2 separate regions of the Homo sapiens genome follow, and region 2 is linked to region 1. The links come from fine-mapping of genetic effects on gene expression. Tissue or cell type: lung. Region 1 holds a variant in brackets; the other region holds the start of a gene. All regions are shown on one strand. Distances are from middle to middle.

Region 1 (8,341 bases):
GGTTAGGTCGGTAGCTCAGTTTTAGTCATGTTGAGGTATTACACATCCAAGTGGAGATACAAATGTAGGTGTCATCAGCTTATAGATAGTATTTAAAACCCAGGTCAGAATGGATGAGATCACCAAGGGAGGATTGAGGCATGGGAAACTCCGAAGTTAAAAGGTCAAGGAGATGAGAAGAACAGCAAAGAGGAAGGAAGGAACCAGGAGAGTGTTGTAACCTTCAAGCTAAATTTAAAAAGTATCTCAAGAAAGAGGAAGAGAGAATGATAGTCAGATGCCACTAAAATATCAAATAGGATGAAACCTGAGAATTGACCAATGGATTAAGGCAAAATGGAGGTCACTGGTGATCATGATGAGGAGAGAGTTGATGGACTGGTGGGGACAAAAGCCTTCATGGAATGGGTTTACAAGAATGGAGGAGGAAAAAAGAAAAGTCACTATAAAACTCTTTCAAAGGAAGGAAGGAGAAAAAAGATGGTAACTAGAGGAAAAAGAGTGACCAAGAGGACTATTTCTTTTAATGGTTACATTTTTTTCTCATCAGGTTCTACTGACCCAAGGAAAGGACTGTTTGAAGATGAAGAAGTTGTATGTCAGTACACGGGTGGGGAGGATCCTGTAGACAGGAAAAACCGAAGTTGTAGCAGAGCGATAGGGAAAGTTTCTGGAGTCATGTTCTTCAGAAGGTGAGCGAGAGGGTCAAGTTCACAAACAGAGGAATTGCCTTACACAGGGGCAGGGACAGTTCCCGAATAATAATTGGGAGAGAAGGCAGAGTGAGCGGGCATGGGTCGAGGGAGCTGGGGAGCTGTGGGATATCTCTTTGTTGCTTCTGTTGTCCAGTGGTATAAGAAACAAGAACATGTGTTGTCAAACTCTTCGTGGGAATAAAAAATCAAGATCACTCTCTAAGAGTGAGGATGAAGAAGAAACTAGGAATTTGAGGAGCAAAAAGATAGGAAATAGGCATTCAGGAGAGAGGAATGGACTAGGAGGGGAGATCAAGAGACTGAGAGGCCAGTGGCCTGGAAGATTCATTTACCTGGATATTTAAATCAGCAGGAATGGGCCGGGTGCAGTGGCTCACTCCTGTAATCCCAGCATTTTGGGAGGCCAAGGCTGGTGGATCACCTGAGATCAGGAGTTCAAGACCAGCCTGACCAACATGGAGAAATTCTGTCTCTACTAAAAATACCAAAATTAGCCAGGCTTAGTGGTGCATGCCTGTAATCCCAGCTACTCGGGAGGCTGAGGTAGGAGAATCGCTTGAACCCGGGAGGCAGAGGTTGTGGTGAGCCAAGATTGTGCCATTGCACTGCAGCCTGGGCAACAAGAGTGACACTCCGATTCAAAAAAAAAAAAAAAAAAGAAAAAATTCTTGAACTTCACATAGAGAGTAGGATTCTATTTATGTATATATATACTATAAATATATAGTATGATTCCATTTATATAAAGTTCAAGCTGGGCGTGGTGGCTCACACCTGTAATCCCAGCACTTTGGGAGGCTGAGACAGGTGGATCACGAGGTCAGAAGTTCAAGACCAGCCTGGCCAAGATCCTGAAACAAAACAAAAATTAGCCAGGCGTGGTGGCACGCACCTGTAATCTCAGCTACTTGGGAGGCTGAGGCAGGAGAATCGCTTGAATCCAGGTGGCAGAAGTTGCAGTGAGCCGAGATCATGCCACTGCACTCCAGCCTGGGCGACAGAGCAAGACTCTGTCTCAAAAAAATAAAATAAAATAAAAATAAATAATAAATAAAGTTCAAGAGCAGGCAAAGTAAATCAATGGTGATAGTAGCAGAATTGTGGTAACCATTGCCTAGGAAAGAGTAAGAGGAATGTGTGTGTGTGCATATATATATATATATATATATATATATAGATAGATAGATAGATAGATATATGCACACACACTCACACACACTTTTTTTTTTTTTTTCTAAACAAGGTCTTGCTCTGTCACCCAGGCTGGAGTACAGTGGTGCAATCACGGCTCACTGCAGCCTCAACTTCCTGGGCTCAAGCGATCCACCCACCTCAGCCTCCCAAGTAGCTGGGGCTACAGATGTGAGCCACTGCGCCTGGCTAGTAGGAGGAATCTTTGGAGATGCACACACAGACACACATACCCCCAGATTAATGGCGCGGCACCTTCTGTTAATAGCACCCACCACCTCTCCTTGTTGCAGCCATCTTCTGCCTCACCCCACTCTGTCCTATACTACTCCTATCCTCATTCTTGATTATTATTATAATTTTTTTTTGAGACTGAGTCTCGCTCTGTCACCCAGGCTGGAGTGCAATGGCACAGTCTCAGCTCACTGCAACCTCCACCTCTCAGGTTCAAGCGATTCTCCTGCCTCAGCCTCCCGAGTAGCTGGGATTACAGGTGCCCACTACCACACCCGGCTAATTTTTTATGTGTGTTTTTAGTAGAGACGGAGTTTACCATACTGGCCAGGCTGGTCTCGAACTCCTGACCTCGTGATCTGCCTACCTCGGCCACCCAAAGTGCCGGGATTACAGGCGTGAGCCACCATGCCTGGCTTTTTTTTTTTGAGAGAGGGTCTCACTCTGCTACCCAGGCTGGAGCGCAGTGGTACAATCTCGGCTTACTGCAGCCTTGAGCTCCTGGGCTCATGTGATCCTCCCACTTCAGCCTCCCGAATAGCTGGGACTACAGGCATGCACCACCACGCCCAGCTAATTTTTTTATTATTGGTAGAGATGAGCCACCACATCTACCCTATTTTTATATTTATTTATTTATTTATTTATTTAGCGATGGAGTTTCACTCTTGTTGCCCACGTTGGAGTGCAATGGTGTGATCTCAGCTCAGTGCAACCTCCGCTTCCCAGGTTCAAGCAATTCTCCTGCCTCAGCCTCCCCAGTAGCTGGGATTACAGGCGCCCGCCACCACGCCTGGCTAATTTTTATATGTTTAGTAGAGACAGTTTCACCATGTTGGCCAGGCTGGTCTCAAACTCCTGACCTCAGATGATCTGCCCGCCTCGGCCTCCCAAAGTGTTGGGATTACAGGCATGAGCCACCGCACGCGGCCTGTTGCTCTTCTTTCACCCTCCCTTCCCTTCCTGCCTCTGGCTTCTCCAGAGTTGGGATGGTGCGAGGAAGGAAAGGAGTCAAGTTTTACATGACAGGGGCTGTCAGAGCCCTCTGTGTGACAGGTTCCTAAATGCTCGCTTTCTCTTGGGTGGAGCATATTTGAAGGTCCCTGGGAGACTTACAGGACCTCTCCACTGCCCTTTTCTCTGGCATCTGCAGTGCACTCTCCAGGTGACCTCTTGCACAGTGCCCTGCACTTTTGCCCCATGGCATCTTACCATTGGGCTCTTCTTGCCCTTCAGGAACTCCTTTTGGGCAGGCTCTATCTGGATGGCTCAAGCTTGGGTACTTTCCATGCTTTCCTCTTGGTCCGTGGGAAACTCCCACATTCTTAGCATGCCAGGTGCTGAAATAAAGTCTACCCACTAGTGCCACCATTCCAGGTCTGGGCTCCAGCCAACCTCCCACATGTCCCATTCAGCAGACATTGGTCTCTATGTTCATTTATATCTCCCAAATACCAGTAAATTCATGTCAGGCTCTTCCAGAACTCTCTCTCAGTGACTTGCTTGTGGTCTTTGACAACACTGGGTCAGGAGTTCTGCCACCCAGGAAACATCCAGCCAAGGACTCAGATGCCCATCTGTTTCTTACAGGCACTCCCAGTCTCTTGGTACTGTCCTACCTTGGTCTGCGTCCTCCCCTCGCCCCTAAAGAACAAGAAACAGGGAATACCAAAGGACTCCAGAGAGATCAGCAATCAACAACAGATCTATCTCCATGAGCGTGCTCTCTTTCCTGTGTCAAATGTGTCATCTCATAGAGGCTGCAGGTGGCAGTGGGGGCCATGGGAGCTGGAGGAATTGTGCTGTCTTTTGCGTGGCTGGAAAAGTATTTTTCTACAATGTGGGGGTACCTGTGTACACTTCTGTCCTTAAGACTCAGCTCAAACTCCAACACAACCAGGAAAACCTTTCAACATCTTGTTACACACAGCCACCTTTAATTTTTTTCTTTTTTTTTTTTAAACTTTTATTATCATTCAAATGATTTGGGCAATTTCATCATATACTACATCCTTTCCAAGGCATGTAACCTGATCATGAAATAGAAAATTAATGCTTCAATAACAATAATTTATACAGAAAATTTTCCTGAAAATAACATGTAGACTATTTTCCTTGGCCTTTGTATTCAAACAAAGATGAAAGAACTAAGCTGTTAAAAAGCTAAGCTGGGCTGGGCGCAGTGGCTCACGTCTGTAATCC[T/C]AGCACTTTGGGAGGCCAAGGCGGGCGGATCACGAGGTCAGGAGATGGAGATCATCCTGGCTAACACAGTGAAACCCTGTCTCTACTAAAAATACAAAAAATTAGCCAGGCGTGGTGGCGGCCACCTGTAGTCCCAGCTACTCGGGAGGCTGAGGCAGGAGAATGGCATTGTGTCCGGAATTGGTGGGTTCTTGGTCTCACTGACTTCAAGAATGAAGCCGCAGACCTTCGCGGTGAGTGTTACAGTTCTTAAAGTCAGCGTGTCCAGAGTTTGTTCCTTCTGATGTTCGGATGTGTTTGGAGTTTCTTCCTTCTGGTGGGTTCGTGGTCTTGGGGGCTCAGGAGTGAGGCCACGGACCTTCGCGGTGAGTGTTACAGCTCTTAAGGCGGCGCATCTGGAGTTGTTCGTTCCTCCCGGTGGGTTCGTGGTCTCGCTGGCTTCAGGAGTGAAGCTGCAGACCTTCGTGGTGAGTGTTACACCTCATAAAGGCAGTGTGGACCCAAAGAGTGAGCAGCAGCAAGATTTATTGCAAAGAGCGAAAGAACAAAGCTTCTACAGTAGGGGACCCAAGCGGGTTGCCCGCCACCTTTAATTTTCACGACCACCTTGTGAGTTAGAGGAATTAGGTAATTGATCTTAAAGAAGTAAAGAGCTTCTGGTTATATGTGGTGAATTGAGCTTATCTCTGCTCACCCTAGAAATCACGTCAAAATAAGAGTAAAGAAGTGAAAAAGGGCAGGCATGGTGGCACGTGCCTGTAGTCCCAGCTACTGGGGAGGCTAAGGTAGGAGGATCACCTGAGCCTGGGAGGCCAAGACTGCAGTGAGCCATGATGGCCCAACTGCGCTGCAGCCTGGGCAAAAAAGTGACCCTGTCTGAAAAATAAAAAATAGCCGGGCGCGGTGGCTCATGCCTGTAATCCCAGCACTTTGGGAGGCCGAGGCGGGTGGATCATGAGGTCAGGAGATCGAGACCATCCTGGCTAACACAGTGAAACCCCGTCTCTACTAAAAATACAAAAAATTAGCCAGGCGTGGTGGCAGGCGCCTGTAGTCCCAGCTACTCAAGAGGCTGAGGCAGGAGAATAGCGTGAACCCGGGAGGCGGAGCTTGCAGTGAGCCGAGATCGTACCACTGCACTCCAGCCTGGGTGACAGAGCGAGACTCCGTCTCAAAAATAAATAAATAAACAAATAAATAAATAAATAATAAGACATGAAAAAGCACAAGGACAAAGAGAAGACTACAGCAAATGAGAGACTGATTTAGTTTGATACAGATGTGCAGATAACTGACACAGGATTTCTGCACAGGATGTGCAGAAAGCCAGATGTGCAGGATAACTGACTTAAGTTTGGGGATTTTTCCATTCTACTCATAATGTAGGGAGTGAAGAGCCAACAAAGAACAAAATAATCAGTCTTAGATCCCAAAAAGGCTCAAAAACAGAAAAGTCCTTGGGCCTCTGAAAGCAGGGGAAGGAAGATTGGAAAATTCCTTGTTGGAGATAATGACTGACTCAGGAGAAGAAGCCAACAGGAACTCAAATGCTGCTCCCTCCCTCCTTACTCCCAGGGAGGCCCACATATGACGGTCTCTGCTCACCCCACCCATGGAGTTTCCAGGCAGCTCTCTCTTAAGTGGGGACAGACAGCCAAGGATCATCTGAGAGTTGAAGGCAGCCTCCAACATAAAAGAAGCCAAAAGAGGAGGAGCCCAGAGAGTAACAGATAATGAAGGGACCGGAAGAAAATATCCTAAAACTGCAATGACTATACTTAGAAATATAAGATTGGCTGGGCGTGGTGGTTCACACCTGTAATCCCAGCACTTTGGGAGGTTGAGGCAGGTAGATCATGAGGACAGGAGTTCAAGACCAACTTGGCCAAGATGGTGAAACCCTGTCTATACTAAAAATACAAAAATTAGCTGGGCGTGGTGGCACATGCCTGTAGTCCCAGCTACTCGGGAGGCTGAGGCAGGAGAATTGCTTGAACCCCGGAGGCAGAGGTTGCAGTAAGCTGAGATCATGCCACTGCACTCCAGCCTGGGTGACAGAAAAAGACTCTGTATCAAAAAAAAAAAAAAAAAAAAAGAAAAGAAATAGAAGATATTGCACCCATGATACAAAAACAGGATGCTTTTTTTGTTTGTTTTTTGGGACAGTCTTGCTCTGTTGCCCAGGCTAGAGTACAGTAACGTGATCACTGCTCATTGCAGCCTGGACCCCTTAGCTCAAGTGATACTCCCACCTCAGCCTCATGAGTAGCTAGAACTATAGGTGCACTGCACCACAGCCAGCTAACTTTTTTTGTTTTTTTGTTTTTAATTAAGAAAATGTGGGGGAATGGGGTCTTGCCATGTTCCCCAGACTGGTCTTGAACTCCTGGGCTCAAGTTATCCTCCCGCCTTGGCCTCCCAAAGTGCTGGGATTACAAGCATGAGCTATCACACCCAGCCCTGGTTTCTTAATAATACACCCTGAAAACTAGAATACAGGCCATGGGCAAGGTGGCTCATGCCTGTAATCTCAGCACTTTGGGAGGCCGAGGTGGGCAGATCACTTAGGGTCAGGAGTTCCAGACCAGCCTGGGCAACGTGGTGAAACACCATCTCTACAAAAAATACAAAAACCACCATCTCTACAAAAAATACAAAAACCAGATGGGTGTTGTGGCATGCACCTGTAGTCCTAGACAGTTGAGATAGTGAGGCAAGAGGACTGCTTGAGCCTCAGAGGTAGCGGCGGCAGTCAGCCTGAGCCGTGTTCCTGCCACTGCATTGCAGCCTGGGTGACAAAGTGAGACCCTGTCTCAACACCAACAAGCATTCCTCTGGATGCTGAAACATTGAGAAAAAGAAAAAACAAACAAGAAGAAAACTGAAAACAATGAGGCAATGCCTTCAAAATTCTAAAGAAACATTATTTTAAATGTAGAATTCTATACTCTGCCAAGATGTTTTCAGACACACAAAAAATAAACTTGCTGTGCTCCTTTCTCAGAAAGCTACTGGATGACAAATTCTACTAAAACAGAGGATGAAACAAAGGAAAACCAAAATATGGCATCCAGGAAATAAGTGAGTCCCAGGGTGAAGGTGCAGGGAAGGGCCAGAACTAAAACTTTGCAGCAGGTCGAGGACAACCAATCCACATTGGAGCAAGCTCAGGAGGCCATCACGTGAGGTTAACAGGTTACCTACTGTATTTGACCAATGAGAGGAGGTTTCTATTTCTCATGGTAAAAGAATAAAAACAAAAACAATGGGCCGGGCGTGGTGGCTCAAGCCTGTAATCCCAGCACTTTGGGAGGTGGTGGCTCAAGCCTGTAATCCCAGCACTTTGGGAGGCCGAGGCGGGCGGATCACAAGGTCAGATCCAGACCATCCTGGCTAACACGGTGAAACCCCATCTCTACTAAAAATCCAAAAAATTAGCCGGGCGTGGTGGCGGGCGCCTGTAGTCCCAGCTACTCGGGAGGCTGAGGCAGGAGAATGGCGTGAACCCGGGAGGCGGAGCTTGCAGTGAGCCAAGATCATGCCACTGCACTCCAGCCTGGGTGACAGAGCAAGACTCCGTCTCAAAAAAAAAAAAAAAAAAAAAAATGCTAGGTGTGGTGGTTCAGGCCTATAATTCCAGCACTTTGGGAGGCTGAGGTGGGCAGATTGCTTGAGCTCACGACCAGTCTAGGTAACCTGGCGAAACCCCGTCTCTACAAAAAAAATATAAAAATTAGTCAGGCGTTGTAATCCCAGCACTTCAGGAGGCCGAGGCAGGTAGATCACGAGGTCAGGAGTTCAAGACCAGCCTGGCCAAGATGATGAAACCGTCTCTACCAAAAATAAAAAAATTAGACGGGTGTGGTGGCACATGCCTGTAATCCCAGCTACTTGGGAGGCTAAGGCAGGAGAATCGCTTGAACCCAGGAGGCGGAGGTTGCAGTGAGCAGAGATCGTGCCATTGCACTCTAGCCTGGGCAACAAGAGCGAAACTCTGC
Region 2 (6,390 bases), 230 kb after region 1:
AAGACCACTGTCATCTTTCAAGGGCTCAACTCCTTGTTCTTCCTACTCCCTTTTCTTAGCGTTTATTTGAGATTTTTCAAGCCTGTAAAAGAAGTACTTGTTTTAAAACAATGTTGGAAATGAGGAAAATGAGCAATATCAACATTTTATCCTGAGGGACAGGGAGTAGAAAACAAGCCAGAGGCTGCTAGTTACATAGTTCAGTCTTAGGGATGAAGGGATTTATGTCTCTCCTCCCTCAGGTACCTCTGTAAAGAAACACAAGACCAAACAATGTGTTTTCCAGTTTTGTTTTTCTGTACTAAAAATATCTAGTGGGTGCTAGGATTGAAAGGGCAAGAGAGGTTGAGATACTGACATCTCCTCATGTGGATGAAGTGGCCATTACCTCTGGTTTCTGTCTATCTGCGTAAGAAAAAAAAATAGAGAAAAAGGGAAATTACAACCACATCTATATTCTTTTCCCTTCCTTGCTTCATCTCCCCCTCCCACAAACCCATATTCCCTCAACCCTACTGCCCACCCCTTACTTATTTTTGTATGCAATAATGGTATTGGACACACAAGGAGAAAAACAGAAACAAGCAAAATGACCAAGTGTAAGCTTTATTACCTTTCCCTCCTCAAAGTCCTATCATCCGTATCAATTGAGACTACCTTATCAAGTCAATCAGAACCTTTGCTAATTCTGGGAAAAGCAGAGGACTATCCTTCCTTGTCCTGGAAGGACAGTACTCCCAAATGGTAGTGGTGAAGAGAGTGGGCACTGGTGTCAAACCTGGTTTAAATCTCGTGGCTCTGCCACTTACTAGCTTTGTAAACCTCAGTTTCTTCATCTGAAAAGCAGGGATAATAATACCTCATAGGATGTGAGGATCGATTCAGGTAAAGTGCACATAGTAAGACCTCAAATTTTGGCACTTGTTGCTGTTAAGCTGTATTAGGTCAAAACTATTAATTGATTAAGATCCTTCATATCTGTTAATTATCTGTGCATCAAAAAGACTTTATGGGCCGGGCACAGTGGCTCATGTCTGTAATCCCAGAATTCTGGAAGGCCAAGGTGGGCAGATCCTTGAGCTCAGGAGTTGGAGACCAGCCTGGGCAACATAGCGAGATCTTGTTAGCCAGGCATGGTGGTGCACGTCTGTAGTCCCAGCTATTCAGCAGGCTAAGGTGGGAGGATTGCTTGAGCCCAGAAGATGGAGGGTGCAGTGAGTTGTGACTGCGCCACCACACTCCAGCCTGAGTGATGAGAGACCCTGTCTCGAAAAAAAAGTCTTATGGTCAGGGGCACAGTAGCTCATGCCTGTAATCCCAGCACTTTGGAAGGCTGAGGCAGGAGAATTGCTTGAGCCCAGGAGTTTAAGACCAGCCTGGGCAACATAGCGAGATCTTGTCTGTGAAAAAAACAGAGAATTTCCAAGACCAGGCATGGTGGCTCATGCCTATAATCCCAGCACTTTGGGAGGCCGAGGCGGGTGGATCACTTGAGGTCAGGAGTTCTAGACCAGCCTGGCCAACATGGTAAAATGCTGTCTCTTCTAAAAAAAAAAAAAAAATTAGCCGGGCATGGTGGTGGGTGCCTGTAATCCCAGCTACTCAAGAGGCTGAGGCAGGAGAATTGTTTGAACCTGGGAGGCAGAGGTTGCAGTGAGCCAGGATCACGCCATTGCACTCCAGCCTCGGCAATAAGAGTGAAACTCTTGTCTTGAAAAAAAAAAATATTTCCAATCTTAACTATTTGGTCAATAATCACCTAATGAGCAGTAAGACATTTTACCTAATGACCAACCAGTAGTTGCTCAATAAATAATAGGTGGAATCAATGGCTAACAATGTGAATAACCAATGCATGTTATGAATCAATAACCAGGTAAGTCAGTAACAGTTCATGTAAGCAACACTGGCTGGCTTAGCAACTGGGTTTTAGATACCAGGACTTTTCAGATCCGTCAACAAAGACCCTGGCTCATCACCAAACACTTACTGGTTGCATCTCTGTGAACACTGAAGAGAGGCTATTCCAAATATCCTCCAGGCCAATCCTGACCCGTTTCCAAAAAGCCAGGGCTGGGCAGGGGCTGGCGGGTGGCAGGCTGGGACTGCTTCTGAGGTGGATGGTGGGGAAGGGGGTAGTGGTGGTCCTGGTACTGGTGGTGCTCTGAGAGGCACAGTTGGTGTCAGTACAGAGACTTGTGTCCAGGGGGCACTCTTCCCGAAGTCGGTTGCAGGGACATTGTTGATAGGTGCAAGGCTTGTGCTCCGTGCGGAGCTGGCTCAGCGCCCCAACTCGAAGGCGCCCGGAAAGGCCGTGCAGCTTCCCAGACCGGCTCCGGCTCATGGTGCCCGACTTGCAGTGGCAGTGCCACGGGCCCCAGGGCATCAGCACCAGCCGCAGATCCTCAGGAGATGGCATGGCTGTGGGTGAGGGTGACGGCCACCGGCTCGGGGTAGACCCAGGTGTGGACCACTGGCTCAGGGTGGCCTGCGAGCCTGGCAGGTCCTCAGTAGACCTCCCGGGGGAGCGCGGCAGGCTTGAAGTCAGCCTGATTTCAGGCTCCTGACTATTGGCTATAAACCTCGTGCTGGAACTCCCCGCTGTATTGGGAGTCGCACTGGGAAGCTCTCTGCTGGTGCTATCCTTTCCGGCATTAATCACAACCCCCTCTTCTGAAGACCCATCCTCCTCGTTAATGGCGGACGACCGGCTAAAGCCGGTGGACACCGTGGCGGCCAAGAGCTCGGCAGCCGCTGGTCCAGCCAGGCGGTCGGCGTCGGCCATGGCATCATTCTCGTCCTCTAGGATTATCCTTGTCTTCCGGGGAAGACCAGTCCGGGCGGTGCTCCGGTAGCTGCGGGTCATGGGGCCCCCAAAGCGTAAACTGACCCGCTGCATTTCGGTCGGAGTCTGGGTCAGGCCTTGGGCCCCCGCCGCCCGGGGACCCAGATTCAGCAGCAGGACCCACAGCAGCGCGCCGGCGGCGGGGACCATGGGGCTGGGCTCTTGGGGTTGGGAGGGTGGCCAGTGAGGCAAGCCCTGCCTCCTACCTTCGCTCCCTCCCTTCCGCTGTAGACCCACCGGGTCGTTTGAACCGAGGCCCGCGGGGAAGGGGGTGGGGTTCGACGCGCAGGCGCGCTCGCGCGGGCCGCGCGGGGTGCTCCTAAGGAACCTCTGCGGCAAGAACTCTGCCAGAACCGAAGGTTTGGGATGCAAGGGGTGGTGAAAGAGTCGTTCACTTCTTTGGAGCAGAGCTTAAATGTCTCATCGCAGTTTATTAGCCTCTACAGTTCTAAATTTACTAAAGAGGGCAAAAATACAGGTTTTGAAAGCACTCCTTCCCAGGCTCACAGGCAGCAGACATGACTTAGAAGGAAAAAGGGCATACAGCGGTTCTTCAAGATTTAATGAGCTGACTCTCCTGGCTCCCAGCAGGCAGGCTGGCTGTCAGGTAAGCCTCTTCCATCCAAGGTGGAAGGATCACAGTCCCTCCAGTTAGACAGGAGGAAAATTAGGACCCAAAAAGATGAAGTTATTTGCCCAAGGTTCTACAGCTAAAGTAGGATTAAAACCCAGAGCTCTGGCCGAGCGCGGTGGCTCACACCTGTAATCTCGGCACTTTGGGAGGCCGAGGCGGGCAGATCACGAGGTCAAGAGATCGAGACCATCCTGGCCAACATGGTGAAACCCCGTCTCTACTAAAAATACAAAACAATTAGCTGGGCGTGGTGGCGTGCGCCGGTAGTCTCAGCTACTCGCTGAGGCTGAGGCAGAAGAATGGCTTGAACCGGGAGGCGGAGGTTGCAGTGAGCCGAGATCGCACCACTGCACTCCAGCCTGGCGACAGAGCGAGACTCCGTCTCAAAAAACAAAAAACAAAAAAACCCAGAGCTCTGCATATCCCATACAAAATGACCCTACATTCAGCCTTCCGTCCCAGCAACTGGAATGAAAGTCACCCAGCAGATCAGTTTCCCAGCCTCAAAGCCCTGCTGAAAGTAGGGTCATGCAAAGGACAAAATCCCACTGAGAAGTGAAGATCCGGTGGTACTGAGGTTGGGGATAAGATGATTTACAAAACAGTTCAGATGTTTCAGGGATTCAGGTGTAGGCAGATCACTAACTGGTTCTAAGGCCTTTTATCCAGTCCTGTGCTATGTCCCTCCTGAGCCATGGAGATCCCGGTCCAGCCTAGGAGAGGGAGAGGGGGAGGAGAGAAGTGGTTCAGGGGGTAGGACTTGGGTTTTATTTTCTGGTTTGGGGAGAGAAGCCAGGTGAATTGGAAGAGCTAGATGATTGGGTTGAGTCATCATTTAGCACTTTTGCTCCCTAACACCCTCTCCCCCACTGGATATCATCTGTTCACTGCCAACACATCTCTTCCTAATTTCTAGGGCCAGTCTGAATCTCCTCTGCACTGTGATTATTCCTTTATTCCTTATTGCCTCTGCACTTATATGTATAGGTTTTTTTTTTTTTTCATTTATTCTTGTTGGATGCAGTAGTGTCCTTCATTTCTTCTCTGGGTGTGTGCAGTTTCCCCATATACATTAAAGCACCCGAAAACAGGGCCCTCTAGCTTTTCGTTCTTTTGTATGTCCCCCAAGGCATTAAAAAAGTAGAGATTGGCTTTACACATCCCACCCCAAGGCTTTATTCTTAAGTGTGAAACTCACTGTCTGACAGCTTCAGGGATGTGGACTTGATCCAGGGATATGAGTTGGGCCAGCTCCCCCAGGCTGTCCAGAAAACGGATTTTTCGTGTGAATTTGGAACTGAAAAGAGAGAATAAATCAACTGTGTTTTGTATTGGGAGAAGGGTTCCCAAAAATCCTTGCAAAGAAAAATGTAGAAGTAGAGTGGTTAAGGCTAGAAAGAATCAAGGTGGAGAAAGATCTTAATCTTGATTTTGAAAATGGGGGGAAGGAGAAAGGAGTCCTTGTTCCTAGAACTAGTACCTGATGAAGGGCCGAAGCAGTGCCAGAAATGCTTTCACATACCATGTAGCATGGACAACCACCAGGGCTCGCAGGTTTTTCCGTAGCCTGAAAAACAACATGAGATCATCCTATTTCTTCTTCCACCTTTATGTGTGAAGATCACGTGGAACTGTTTTCTGTACTGTAACTTCCTTCATTCACTTCTCTAGTTTCTAGATTTATCTGGTACTTGGGTCTAATCCCCATTCCGTCAGCTGTAATCTCAGCTCCACCCATCTTATTTAGCCCTCCATGATCCTCATTTTTAAAAAAACTCTCAAGATTTTTTTTTTTTTTTTTTTTTGAGACGGAGTCTCACTCTGTCGCCTGGGCTGGAGTGTAGTGGCACTATCTCAGCTCCCTGTAAGCTCTGCTTCCCGGGTTCATGCCATTCTCCTGCCTCAGCCTCCTGAGTAGCTGGGACTACAGGCGCCCGCCACCGTGCCCGGCTAATTTTTTGTATTTTTAGTAGAGACGGGGTTTCACCATGGTCTCGATCTCCTGACCTCGTGATCTGCCCGCCTCGGCCTCCCAAAGTGCTGGGATTACAGGTGTGAGCCATCGCGCCCGGATTTTTTTTTTTTTTTTTTTTTTTTGAGATGGAATCTCACTCTGTCGCCAGGCTGGAGTCAGTGGCTCGATCTCGGCTCACTGCAACCCTCCACCTCCCGGGTTCAAGTGATTCTCCTGCCTCAGCCTCCCGAGTAGCTGGGATTATAGGCACATGCCACCATGCCCAGCTAATTTTTGTATTTTTTTAGTAGAGATAATGACTTGTCACCATGTTGGCCAGGCTGGTCTTGAACTCCTGACCTTGTGATCCGCCCACCTCGGCCTTCCAAAGTGCTGGGATTACAGACGTGAGCCACCGCGCCCGACCACCTGGTCTTTTTCTGCTCCATTTCCATCTTGTGCTCTACCCTCGCGTAAGTTCCTTTTGCATGCTTCTACATCGCTCCATGACCAAGATTACTTATAAAACTCTAGGTGGAAGAAGACCAGCAAGGACGAAAAAAGGAAAGGGGGCAAGAAGAGAAATGTGAGCAAATGGAGATGGGGGAACCAAAAGGGGAAAAAAAAAAAACCTGAGAAGGAAAAGAAGACACAGGGCCAGGCACAGTGGCTCACACCTGTAATCCCAGCACTTTGGGAGGCCAAAGCAGGCAGATCACCTGAGCTCAGGAGTTCAAGACTGGCCTGAGAAACATGGCAAAACCCTGTCTCTAACAACAACAACAAAAATACAAAAATTAGCTAGGCATGGTGGTGGCGCATGCCTGTACTCCCAGCTACTTGGAAGGCTGAGGTGGGAGGATGGCTTGAGCCAGGGAGGGAGAGGCTGCAGCGAGCCAAGATCTTACCACTGCACTGCAGCCTGGTGACAGAGAAGACACATAGGTCAGTGATGAA

Evidence for each region. PIP is the estimated chance that this variant, and not a neighbour inherited with it, causes the effect.
Region 2: C1orf56 starts here. The variant in region 1 is fine-mapped to the expression of C1orf56 in lung (TOPMed, PIP 0.97).

The regions. Positions count from the first base shown.
Region 1 is chr1:151,269,249-151,277,589 of GRCh38, reverse strand. No RefSeq gene overlaps it. Among named protein-coding and RNA genes, the nearest start is that of ZNF687-AS1, 8.5 kb to the left of the region's middle. The variant T/C (reference allele first, on the strand shown) is at 4,344.
Region 2 is chr1:151,044,453-151,050,842 of GRCh38, reverse strand. C1orf56 (chromosome 1 open reading frame 56) reads right to left here and starts at 3,092. Exons shown (of 2, transcript NM_017860.5): 1 at 1,991-3,092; 2 at 1-405. The coding sequence starts at 2,995. The coding sequence ends at 385. BNIPL (BCL2 interacting protein like) reads right to left here. Exons shown (of 10, transcript NM_138278.4): 8 at 4,960-5,046; 9 at 4,678-4,776; 10 at 3,123-4,192. The coding sequence ends at 4,156. RefSeq lists enhancers at 2,195-2,434, 2,715-2,764.